3 linked regions of the Homo sapiens genome follow. The protein of the gene in region 2 binds, or shares a complex with, the protein of the main gene of each other region. Each region holds a gene or a part of one and is shown on either strand. Other genes may lie near its edges.

Region 1 (3,752 bases), on a different chromosome or scaffold from region 2:
GGCCAAATCTGAAGAAGATTACCTGGTCATGATCATTGTCCGTGGTGCGTCCTAAAGTCCATGTGTAACTTGTATTTACTACTTTGACATGGTTCCTGTTTTGTGATGTGTAATGGGATACAGCATCAGATGCAATTTTCTTTTTAGTTGTTAGTTGTAGCATTTTCTTTTTTATATTTTTATAAACGTCTTTAAAATAGAAATCAGGACAGTTTAGCTATTTTTTTGTTTGTTTAGCTATTATTTTAAGTGAAAGGGATGCCCTAAAGGTAGCAGGCAGGCAGACAGATTTGCTTTAATTAGGAGTTCCCACCCTTATGAGTAATTTTTTTTCTCTATTCAGTTGTTTTTTTTTTAATCTTGAGCTTAAAAAATCCTCAGAGTTACAAAACCAAAATTTTGAAAAGTCAGAATTTGGAGAAAGGAGTCCACTGACCATATAAAGAGAGTAATAGCCACCTAAAAATGACTCGATTGGTGTGTAGGTAAATAATTCTTTTACCAGAAATGTGTGTGACTGAAATTTGATCAGGGATCTCAAAGATATGCTGGTAAATTGTATAGCAATGTAATTATTTTAATCAGGTATTTGAGTATTTCTTAAGATACAGTTTATTCCCAGAGAGTTTGCTTTAACATGCATTTTTTAAATCATTTGTTCTAGAGTTCTGTATCCCATATATGCACTTTTGGTTTGTAGCAGTAACTGTTCAGTAAAAATTAAGGACTATGTTACAAACCATATATGTCTTATGCTTACACTAGTATGCAAGAAGTGAGTAGGTGCTTTTAAAATCAGAATTCTTTGGTCAGTTATTGGTGTGTGGTGGTGTTTTTACTGACTTTTTCAGAGAGGTGTAGCAGGTACAGTTCTAATCGTGCATATTTCGAAACTAAGTGTTCTTCATCAAAGATGAGTTTTTGTTTTTGTATCAATTCAAATTTCTGGTTTCAATAATAGAAAGAAGAGTTGTCTGCAGGCTCATAGTCATCTTTTATTTCAGTGGGCATTTAAATCAGCCATATTTGGATTGCAGAATTTCTTAAAAAGTCATCATAAAATGCCTTTGACATGCTCTTTTAAAATTTTGCTTGTCTTTTTATTTTCATATTTAAACAGTAGTGACATTACATTATTGAAAATGTTTTGAACATCTTGGAAATTTTATGTTCAATATTCTCACTGCTGTCCAGCTACGGAATTGAAATGTCAGTGTAGGAAAACCTTTTTTAATTGTTTTATTTTCCCAGACACCCGGAATTAATACAGGATCATTTAACTTAGCCTCACAGTTTTTTTTTTTTCAAAGGTGAGATGATATCAACCTCTGGTTCTCAACAAGGACTTTTGCTGCTTAACAGTAATGGATTTTTTTTTTTTAATCTATCCCCTCTGTCCCACCCCTAATTTGTCAGGTCATTAGTAAGTATATTTTTCTCCCTTGATTTAAGTGCTGAAGACTTCAGCTAAGGCCCTTGATATTTAATTATGATTAGAGACTTTTGGACCTTCTGGATCATGGTCATGTTTCTGTTCTATGAAAGTGACTTAACTTGAAGCCTGGCAGAACCCAACTGTTTTCTTTCTGTTATCAAAGCTGGTAGTTTTGAAATAGCACCAATAATAACCCAGGGAAATGTCATGTAATTTTTATTTTCCATTATGACAGGTGTCTAATGCATGTCAGCACAAAAGTGTCATCACTGCTGTGTCATCCCTCTTGGTTTTCACTATGCATCTATAATTTTTTAAGTTTGCAGGTTTTGTGGGGGTTTTTGTTTGTTTGTTTTTAAACTGGAAAAACTAGCCATTTTGAGAGAAGGAAGGTTCTAGGCTATGAGCATGAAGGTCCTTGTGCCTCTTGGGAAAATACCTGAAATCCTATAATGAAGACTTTTGATGCTTCTTGCTTTCAAAAAGCTGTGGTTGGTTTGGAGTAGACACCTGTTCAGAAACTAATGCAAGTGTGGAGTCTACATACGTGGGCTCATAGTATAATTTGTGGCCAGCTACATTTTTCCAGTTTAAATAAACTCACTAACCATTAATTTTTGAATATCTTTTGTTGAGATAGTTGGACAAATGATTTTGCTCTTTTGGAGAGTGAAGTCCATGACATCTAATTTTACTGTCATCCAAAATGTGTGTTTTATTTCTTTTCTTTTACTTTCTTTTTTTTTGTTTGTTTTTTGTTTTTTGTTAGTGTGACAGCGTACAGAAGAGTACTGTGTTTTTGCTCCATGTTTGTTTGAATCTTTACCTGACATTGCCGCTTTTGTTAGGTCTGGGCAATTTGTGCTTCAGTGTTTTTGAAACAATGGCTTGATACCATTTCTAAATGTATGTATTATAAAAAACTAATTATGTTTAGTTGGTCATTACCTACAGAGTGCCATAGTCCACATGAACCTCATATTTGTACTGCCCATTCTTTTGTGCAGGTTCATAATATCCATAAAGTATCTAGTTAAACCTTAAGAATTCAAATGAAAGCAAAAGTCTAAAACCGGTTCTACTTCTCATTAGCCAGGATTTAATAATCCCAACGTTGAATGTTCTTTGTAACAACCAATTTTTTTCTATCTTTCTTCTTTAATTATTTTAATGTAGTTGATTTTTCTGGAACTCAGTTAAAATGAATGGAAAGAAAACTTCAGGATATCATTTAATGACTATTAAGTATTATTGGTAAAAACGTGAAGATAAGACTTTTAGATCACAGCTTCAAATTTTATGGAAAATTAAGCAAGCAATACCTAGCCAATAGTTCTGCTTAACTTTTTGGTTAAGTATTTTGTTGGGATTCCTATAAATAATTTTTCACACAAAGTTTTAAATTTCTGGTGTACTTTGACTCTCAACTGAGAGTGGATAGAGTTTTTCTTTTGAGGATTACATCTTAAAATGTCCATCGCCTGGCTGGTTATAAGCATTTGTCACCTTTTGAAGGTAAAATATACTCTGGCCCTTCTTGACTCAGTTACAGGTCATTTTAGGTCCAGTAATAAGAGTCAGGTGTTTGGTTATTGCTTTCAGAGTCAGACATTGTTTAGGTTTATTTAAAAACTATTAGCAGGTTTTCACTGACAATGCTTTTTTAAAAATAAAAAATGTAAATCCACTTTTTTAAGGCAGATTGTTCATTATGCATATACAGCTTGAACTATAGTTTGGGTCCATATAGGAACCAATCACCAAAAACTCTGGTAACAGAATTAGGAAATCCTCTTGAGAAGAGGGCCTTAATGACCTTTTATGTGAAAAAAATTTTGGAGAGAATTTCTGGACATTTTTTTTTCTGTCTCTCTCACAGGGTTTGGTTTTCAGATAGGAGTTAGGTATGAGAACAAGAAGAGAGAAAACTTGGCGCTGACCCTGTTATAGTGGTTATAGTGGTGTCCCTAAAGGGAGGAAATGATTTCAGGTAACCACAGTGAAATGTTAAGCTGAATGAAGAGTTTTATATGTATGGTTTAAACAGAGTTGAAAAGTGAGATTCCTGAAGTGTTCTTTGGCTGTTTAACAATTATTTGTATGAGTGTTTTATTAAAATAACGGCTGCTGTCTTTGGTAACATAGATGAGGGTGGATTTTTAAATGGCTTTGTATCGACCCCTTTCTACAATAATGGAGTAGTCTATGTTGCTCCATATAAATTACAGAATGAAAATAGATGGGGCAAAAGTTTGACTAAACTTTACCTTTTTATAGTTTCACTTTTTAAGTTATATTTAGAATATATTGATAGATT
Region 2 (3,752 bases):
CCCAGGCTGGAGTGCAGTGGCACAATCTCAGCTCACTGCAACCTCCGTTTCCCGGGTTCAAGTGATTCTTCTGCCTCAGCCTCCTGAGTAGCTGGGATTACAGGCCTGTGCCACCACGCCTGGCTAATTTTTTTGTATTTTTAGTAGAGACTGGGTTTTACCATGTTGGTCAGGCTGGTCTCAAACTCCTGACCTTGTGATCTGCCTGCCTTGGCCTCCCAGAGTGCTGAGATTACAGGCGTGAGCCACCATGCCCAGCCAAAAAAAAAATTTTTTTTTAATATAGATAAAGTCTCACTCTGTTACCCAGGCTGGTCTCACTCCTAGCCTCAAACAATCCTCTCTCTTTGGCCTCCCAAAGCGATGGGATTACAGGCGTGAGCCACCACATTTGGCCAGAGAATGTAACTTTTTTAAGGGAAAAATCACACTTTTGCATAAGTTCTATGAAGCACTTTGTTTTCTTACTTGACGGGGTATAGAACAGGGAAAAGTATCCCATAAAACAACAGTTTATTCTTGCATTTGGGTTCAAGGAGAGGAATGGTTGTGCTATGGTGTGGCTCTCAGTTTGGAAACTTGTGAAGAATGTATTTGTTATAGTATAGTATGAATGGGAATTGACATTCTTAAACATAATGCTGAATAGGTAAGAGTATAATTAACTATTTAAAATTTATTGCAGTCTGTTCTATGCTTCTCAGAGATGTGGTAAGGCGAATTATTTTAGCCACATCTTATTATACAGTACATTGTTCCTTTTCTTTATCAAAGAAACATACTGGTGTTCATCATATACAATAAAACTAAGAGAATGATTTGCTTCACATTTGTATTTAGTGTGTTGAGGGCTGCTTTTCCTTTTTTAAAAAACCACATACAATTCAATTAAAAGTGCATTAAAAATTAATTTCTTTTTAGTGCAAGCTGTTCAGTGGTTCTTTAAAACTGTCCTCTCCAGTAGAATTTTATGCAATAATGCAAATATTTTGTAGTCTGCCCTGTCCAAAACAGTAGCCTCATGTGCCTGTTGTACAATTGAAATGTGGATGACTAGGGAACTGAATTTTATTTTGATTTAATTTTGATTAATTTAGATAGGCACATGTTGTTAGTGGCTACCACGTTGGGCAGCACAGGTATAAAATATTTGTTAAAAGTTACTAATTTTTTAACTTTAAGTTGAATCACAACTGTCTTGTGATGATAATTGTAACCCTCTGGATTAGAGAAATTTTAGGTATCTTACATTTGATAAATTTGAATAAAACCTAAGTAAACTGAATGTTGATTTCCCTGAAATTAAACTTAGATGGGAACCTCATTAAATGCATAGAGCTTTTGGGAATCTGTGGCACAGAATCTTTTTGTAATAGAAATGTTGACTATATAAGGCTGGCAGAGTATGTTATTTTCAGATTCTTTTTTTGGAAAAGTTCAGGAGATATTACAGTGTTAATTTATATAGACAAATACTGAGTTTCCTGCTCAGGCATCAAAGTTCTCCTAGATTAATAGCCCTGCTTTGAAGAATGCCACACACAAAAAAAGTAGCATTACTAAGGTGTGTGTGTGTGTTTGTTTTTAAACTACCAATGCCATTTGCTTTTTGAAAAGATGAAAGAGGTAGATCTATAATTTATTTCTTATGAGAGGCAAATATAATTTATAGGTAATAAGAATTTCTGTAGTCAAATGTTATGCTAATAATTACATTTAATATGTGTTTTGTTTCATTATTATGACTGCAGGTAAAGGTTGACTTAATTGAACTCTCTGAAAAATGCTGTAGTGACTTTGATTTGCACTCAGAATTAGAGCGCTCATTTTTGTCAGAACCATCATCTCCAGGAAGAACCAAGACTACTAAAGGATTCAAACTTGGGAAGCACAAGCATGAGACCTTTATAACGTCAAGGTAAAATTTATTCCACTGAAGATCTCAAATGTCATCACATAAGCTTATGTATTTTAGTATATTTTAAGATAGACACATGCGGCCGAGCGCGGTGGCTCACGCCTGTAATCCCAGCATTTTGGGAGGCCGAGGTCAGGAGATCGAGACCATTCTGGCTAACATGTTGAAACCCTGTCTCTACTAAAAATAAAAAAAAAAAAATTAGCTGGTCGTGGTGGTGGGTGCCTGTAGTCCCAGCTACTCGGGAGGCTGAGGCAGGAGAATGGTGTGAACCCGGGAGGTGGAGATTGCATTGAGCCGAGATCACGCCACTGCGCTGCAGCCTGGGCGACAGAGCAAGACTCTGTCTCTCAAAAAAAAAAAAAAAGACACATGCTATTAAACTAGAAAGGAAATTAACATAGCATTCGAATCATGAACATTGTTTGAATTTTTTAAATTTAAACGTAATAATTTGGCCAGGATATACCCAGTACATTTGTTATATTGTTTTCTACAAGATTTTGGAAGGTTTGAATAAGAAGTGAACTGGATTATTTTAAAACATTGTTATTCATAACAATGAAATGTGAGTACTTTTCTTAGCTAGTTTGTTATATTATCCCAGAAGTATGATAGATACTTGCAAAGTTAGCAGAATTGGAGTACAAAAAAACTGAAATATAATTTTGGGTATTATAAAGATTATTTTTGCTAGAAACCTGAAAGAAAAATGTTTTATGGCATGTTTTTGTTTTAATAGTGGAAAATCTGAATACATTGAACCTGCCAAAAGAGCTCATGTTGTGCCACCACCAAGAGGAAGGGGCAGGGGAGGATTTGGACAGGGTATACGACCTCATGATATTTTTCGTCAGAGAAAACAGAACACAAGTAGACCACCATCTATGCATGTGGATGACTTTGTTGCTGCTGAAAGTAAAGAAGTGGTTCCTCAAGATGGAATACCTCCACCAAAACGGCCACTCAAAGTATCACAGAAGATTTCTTCCCGTGGTGGGTTTTCAGGCAATAGAGGAGGACGGGGTGCTTTCCACAGTCAGAATAGGTTTTTCACACCACCTGCTTCAAAAGGTAACTAATTAGTATGTATTTTCTAATGGGTTAGAATATTGGAATGTTAAAATATTGAATGAAAGTGATTTAGATGGAAGAGATTCAGATAAACAGTTTTCCTGTTGCTGCAGTTGAGCCACCTCTGGACTAGTGGTACTGTTTGCAGAGTACTCTATTGGATAGAAGAAAGAAACTTTTTTTCAATGAACCTTTCATGCATTGTACTTTTAATAATGAGTTTAGAAGTCTTGGCTAATTATTCCCCCCGGCCTTTTTTTTTTGAGACAAGAGTCTTGCTCTGTCGCCCAGGCTGGGGTGCGGTGGTGTGATCTCAGCTCACTACAAACTCTGCCTCCCTGGTTCAAGTGATTTTCCTGCCTCAGCCTCCCAAGTATTTGGGACTACAGGCATGCACCACAATGCCCAACTAATTTTTGTATTTTTAGTAGAGATGGGTTTTCGCCGTGTTTGCCAGGCTAGTCTCAAACTCCTGACCTCAAGTGATTCACCCCCCTTGGCTTCCCAAAGTGCTGGGATTACAGGCATGAACCACCGTGCTCAGCCTTATTTTCCTTTTTACATTGAGAATTATACATTTTCTGAGTAATACCCTTACATTATTTTCACAATTATACTTAACAGTTTTCTTAAGATTGTTCTGTGCAGTTCACCATTGATCTGCCTAATCTGCTTGTTTTCTAATGTTATATTTAGTCTGTTTGAAATTGTTACAAGATTTTTTTTTTTGGAGACAGAGTTTTGCTCTTCTTGCCCAGGC
Region 3 (3,752 bases), on a different chromosome or scaffold from region 2:
TCAGTAAATTTTCTTGATGCACCATAAAATGCCAACAAAACTTCTAACTTACAGGTTAAATTATATAAAATACAATTTGAAAGCTCTTTTTAATTCTAATTATTTAAATATTAGCATCAGCAGACATTAATAATACTATTCTGAACCTGGATTTCCATGAATCTGAAGGTTAACCGTTAGCTGATAGGCTAAGTATGATAGAACAAAAAAATCAAAGCCAGTGGTGGTGATGAGCATCTGTAGTCCCAACTACTCCGGAGGCTGAGGCATAAGGACCCCTTGAGCCCGGGAGTCCAAGGATGCAGTGAGCTATGATTCTGCCATTGTGTTCCAGTTTGGGCTGCCCCATCTCTAAAAAAAATTTTTTTAATATGAAAAAGAAGTACTTTCTAAGTGAAAACTTAAAAAAAAAAAAAAAACCCAAATTGGTGAAAAATGCCTGACTATATCAACACTGTATTTAGAAAAATAGGGAGGTATGGGAAAAAGGTTAGGCAAGCCCCAATGCCCAAAACAATAATCCCAGAAACTGAAAGCATCTTGAAAACCACCTAGCAATACAGAACTTTACATTTAAAAAAAGCAGGGGTAATTTTGATTCACAAATGTCCTTAGTTGTGAATGTACCTAAAAACTTGTTTATAAAGCTGCATATATAGAGCAGAAAAATCTTTTACAAGATCTCAGGAAAATAATCACCAAATAACATGGTGCACTTAAATCGCACTGATCATCACAGCATGATTCACAAATAATACCGTACAACTACAAAGATATAACACATCGCTACACATACTTTATTTGCAATTCAGTACCATGAAAACATTTCTCTAAGAGGTCAATGTAATAATCTTTTATTGATATAGGAACTCTGGCACTGAAAGCTTGAATAACCCAAGGTAATGATGTCGTCACCAAGGGAGGACAAGAATAGAACCCAAATCCCTTGACTCCCAAGCTTGTGTTTTCCATTAATTGTGCTCCTTTCTATTCATCCAAGAGCATCAAGTGTAAAAGGCTGGAGAAAGGAGTGGACACAAATGAGCCAAGTCCGCAAGGTGGAGACTGCACTGAAGGTCCTAGGAATCGCCCCTTGGCACTTTCCTTTTGTGTTGGCTGAGGAAGATGAAAGCAGCAACAACCACAAACTCCTGGGACCAAGAACTGGAACTAGGTACTGCTTGTTGTGGTAACTCTCTTCCTCATTTTAGGCCTTTCCTTTTTAACCTCTCCTTCCGGCCAAGCCTTCGCGCTCTCTTCCCCTCCCTCGGTTTCTATCCGCTCCCGTTAGCTCCACTCCGCACATTCCTGCAAGGTGTCCCCGTTAAGAGGAGGCAGCTGCGCCGCACTGGCTCTCCACCCTCCATCCGGCCCTGGCGCCCAGTCGTCAGGTGTTCGAGAGGTTCGTAGCGTCACAAGCGCTCTCCCTAGAAAGTGAGTGGCAGTCAAGCATTATAAACGTGTTTCAACTGTAAAGAGACTTAAGAGATGGGAACCGGGGCATATACCAAGTTAGCTCTGCGTGGGTCTAGGTAGCTCGTCACGACAAAGCAAAATTTAGACAAGCGTTGAGACTTTCCTTCTAGCTCCGAGTTTCACAGCTCCGCCATCCCCTGAGCAACCTCCCACTGGAGGGCGCCTTCCGGAGCGCGCGTGTTTACACTTTTGCTACACCAGGCGGAGGAAACAAGCGCTCGCTGACCCCGGGGGATTCCAAACCGTTACTCCGCCCGCCGGGGTGGGGCCAGCGCAACGGCCGAGCCTGCGCAGCCAGCCGGCTCCGGGGGCCCCGCGCACTACAAGTCCCAGAAGGCAGCTCTCCGCGGGGCGGGCAGTCGCCTTATCTGCTTCTGGCTCATTTTTACCACTGCTCTCCCCTTCCCCGGTCCCCCTGGTGTCCTTTCCACAGTTAAAGGCTACTTTCTCTTGAAGCACATGAGGAGAAGCCTTAGCAACCTCAATACCGAAGTTCTTCGCGCGCTCGCTCTTTCTGCCTCCGCCCGAACTATGCCTGAGTCCCTCACAGGAGTTGGATAGTAGAGGCGAGAGAAGGAAGTCTTTGCAGGCCAAAATTGGGACAACCTGCTTGGACTTCCGCCTCCCGGCCTCCGGAAGGCAGTGCGCACGCGCTCGCTGCGACTCCGGCGCGGTTGACTTCCGCTCCCACTGTGCTCTGCGAGCCGAATCATGGATCACACTGGTAAGGAGGCGGAGGCAGTGGGGGTCCCGGTTCCAAGCCCCCTTGGCCGGCCTGGGGCTGGTCGCACAGCAGGCAAAAGGGATTATGCTCGCCCCACAACACTAGGGTGTGGCAGTGAGAAGAAATCTCACAGATGCCTTCCTGTGCCCGGCAGGGGCCTGCGGTTTCCTGGCCTACCGTCTGGTGTGGTACCTACCTCCTCCGTGCCGGCAACAACCGCTCCTACTCTGGTTCTGCTGAGCTCCGAGCCCGGACCAGTGGGCGATGTAGGCCTTCGGGAAGGGAGAGCCCCGGCTCTGTTTTATTTAGCCCAGCTGCTCTGGCCTACGTTATGGAGACTGGCGGGTAGATTGCGGTCTCCGAGTCGCGGAATCCTCTTTACGCTGGGAGTGGACGGGCGAGAATGGGTTGGAGACTTCCTGCTGTCTCAGTCAGCTTTGGGCGGGTGCTGCAGTGGTCACCCCCTGTCGTCTCTCCGATCCTTTATGGACTAGAGGGGTGAAAGAAGGGAGTCTGATAGAGTTTTTGGAATCAAACTCGGAGCAGTTTTTCTACCTAAACCAAAAGCATGCCCCGCGCTTCGGCTGAGGTCCTTACTCATCATTTGAGGGTATTTACAAAGAGGAGTTTAAAATCAAGGCATTCTCATACTTTTCTCCAAGTAAGAGTGGCTCCACCCTTTGTTATGTATTTTCTGGCTTTTGCTTCTTTGTGGTTCTTGGATATTGAATGAGTGCTCTTGGAGTTATGTGCCCCATACATTTATAGCGACCGTATCACAAATAGAGAAAAAAAGGCTTTTTCTTGAGTATTGAGTTGTCCTCACTCATCAGATATCTACTTGGTTATATAATTAGGTGTGTATGTTTATTTATGTAGGTGTGTATGTTTATTTATGCAAGATACATGCAGATATCTATAGGTCGGGAGATGGAAGATGGAATGGTAAACGAGACGGACCAGGTCCGTGATAGAACTTCTGTTTTATGGAGGAACACAGACAATACGTTCTTTTTTTTTAAATTTATTATTTTTTTAATGTTTGCGGATTATTTTGAAGAAAATAAACGAGTGCTGTGGAGAGATTCATAGGACGAAATTTCAGAGAGGGTTGTTAGGAATGGTCTTTGTGGAAGCTAAGATCTGATGGATGAGAAGAACCCAGCCCTGGGAAAAAAGCAAGAGGAAGAGCATTTCCAGCAAGTGCGAAGGCACTGAGGTAGGAAGATACAGTGAAGTCAGCTGCAGCCTCCTAATAGCCAGAGGGTAGGAGTCCTGAAGTGAGATTGGAAAGGAGGGCAGCAGGCACATCATTCAGGTCATTGAAAGCCGTGGTAAACGTTTGAATTTTAATTTAAGTGAATATGAAGCCATTGAACAGAAGTGGAGGAGGAACACAGTCTCTTAAAAAATACAATAGGCTGTTCTATGAAGAATGGTGTAAGAGAGGGAGGTAAGAATGATGGAAAATAGCTGATTGCAGTAGACGGGAAGGGAAGGTTGGTTTGGTGAAAATGAAGGAGAATGGGCAGCTTCAGTAAATACTCTGGTG

The links.
Region 1: VIRMA (region 2) and RBM15 share a complex: the UniProt entries of both Homo sapiens proteins name them as parts of the WMM complex.
Region 3: VIRMA (region 2) and CBLL1 share a complex: the UniProt entries of both Homo sapiens proteins name them as parts of the WMM complex.

Annotation. Positions count from the first base shown.
Region 1 is NC_000001.11:110,342,225-110,345,976, forward strand, and holds part of RBM15 (RNA-binding protein 15), read left to right. Parts: coding exon 1-44; intron 45-3,314; coding exon 3,315-3,385; 3' UTR 3,386-3,425; intron 3,426-3,752. UniProt on the Homo sapiens protein: RNA-binding protein that acts as a key regulator of N6-methyladenosine (m6A) methylation of RNAs, thereby regulating different processes, such as hematopoietic cell homeostasis, alternative splicing of mRNAs and X chromosome inactivation mediated by Xist RNA.
Region 2 is NC_000008.11:94,490,818-94,494,569, reverse strand, and holds part of VIRMA (protein virilizer homolog), read left to right. Parts: intron 1-1,751; coding exon 1,752-1,918; intron 1,919-2,660; coding exon 2,661-2,992; intron 2,993-3,752. UniProt on the Homo sapiens protein: Associated component of the WMM complex, a complex that mediates N6-methyladenosine (m6A) methylation of RNAs, a modification that plays a role in the efficiency of mRNA splicing and RNA processing.
Region 3 is NC_000007.14:107,741,977-107,745,728, forward strand, and holds the start of CBLL1 (E3 ubiquitin-protein ligase Hakai), read left to right. Parts: upstream 1-2,165; 5' UTR 2,166-2,187; coding exon 2,188-2,200; exon of another isoform or gene 2,201-2,333; coding exon of another isoform or gene 2,334-2,466; exon of another isoform or gene 2,467-2,861; intron 2,862-2,882; exon of another isoform or gene 2,883-3,419; intron 3,420-3,752. UniProt on the Homo sapiens protein: E3 ubiquitin-protein ligase that mediates ubiquitination of several tyrosine-phosphorylated Src substrates, including CDH1, CTTN and DOK1. Targets CDH1 for endocytosis and degradation.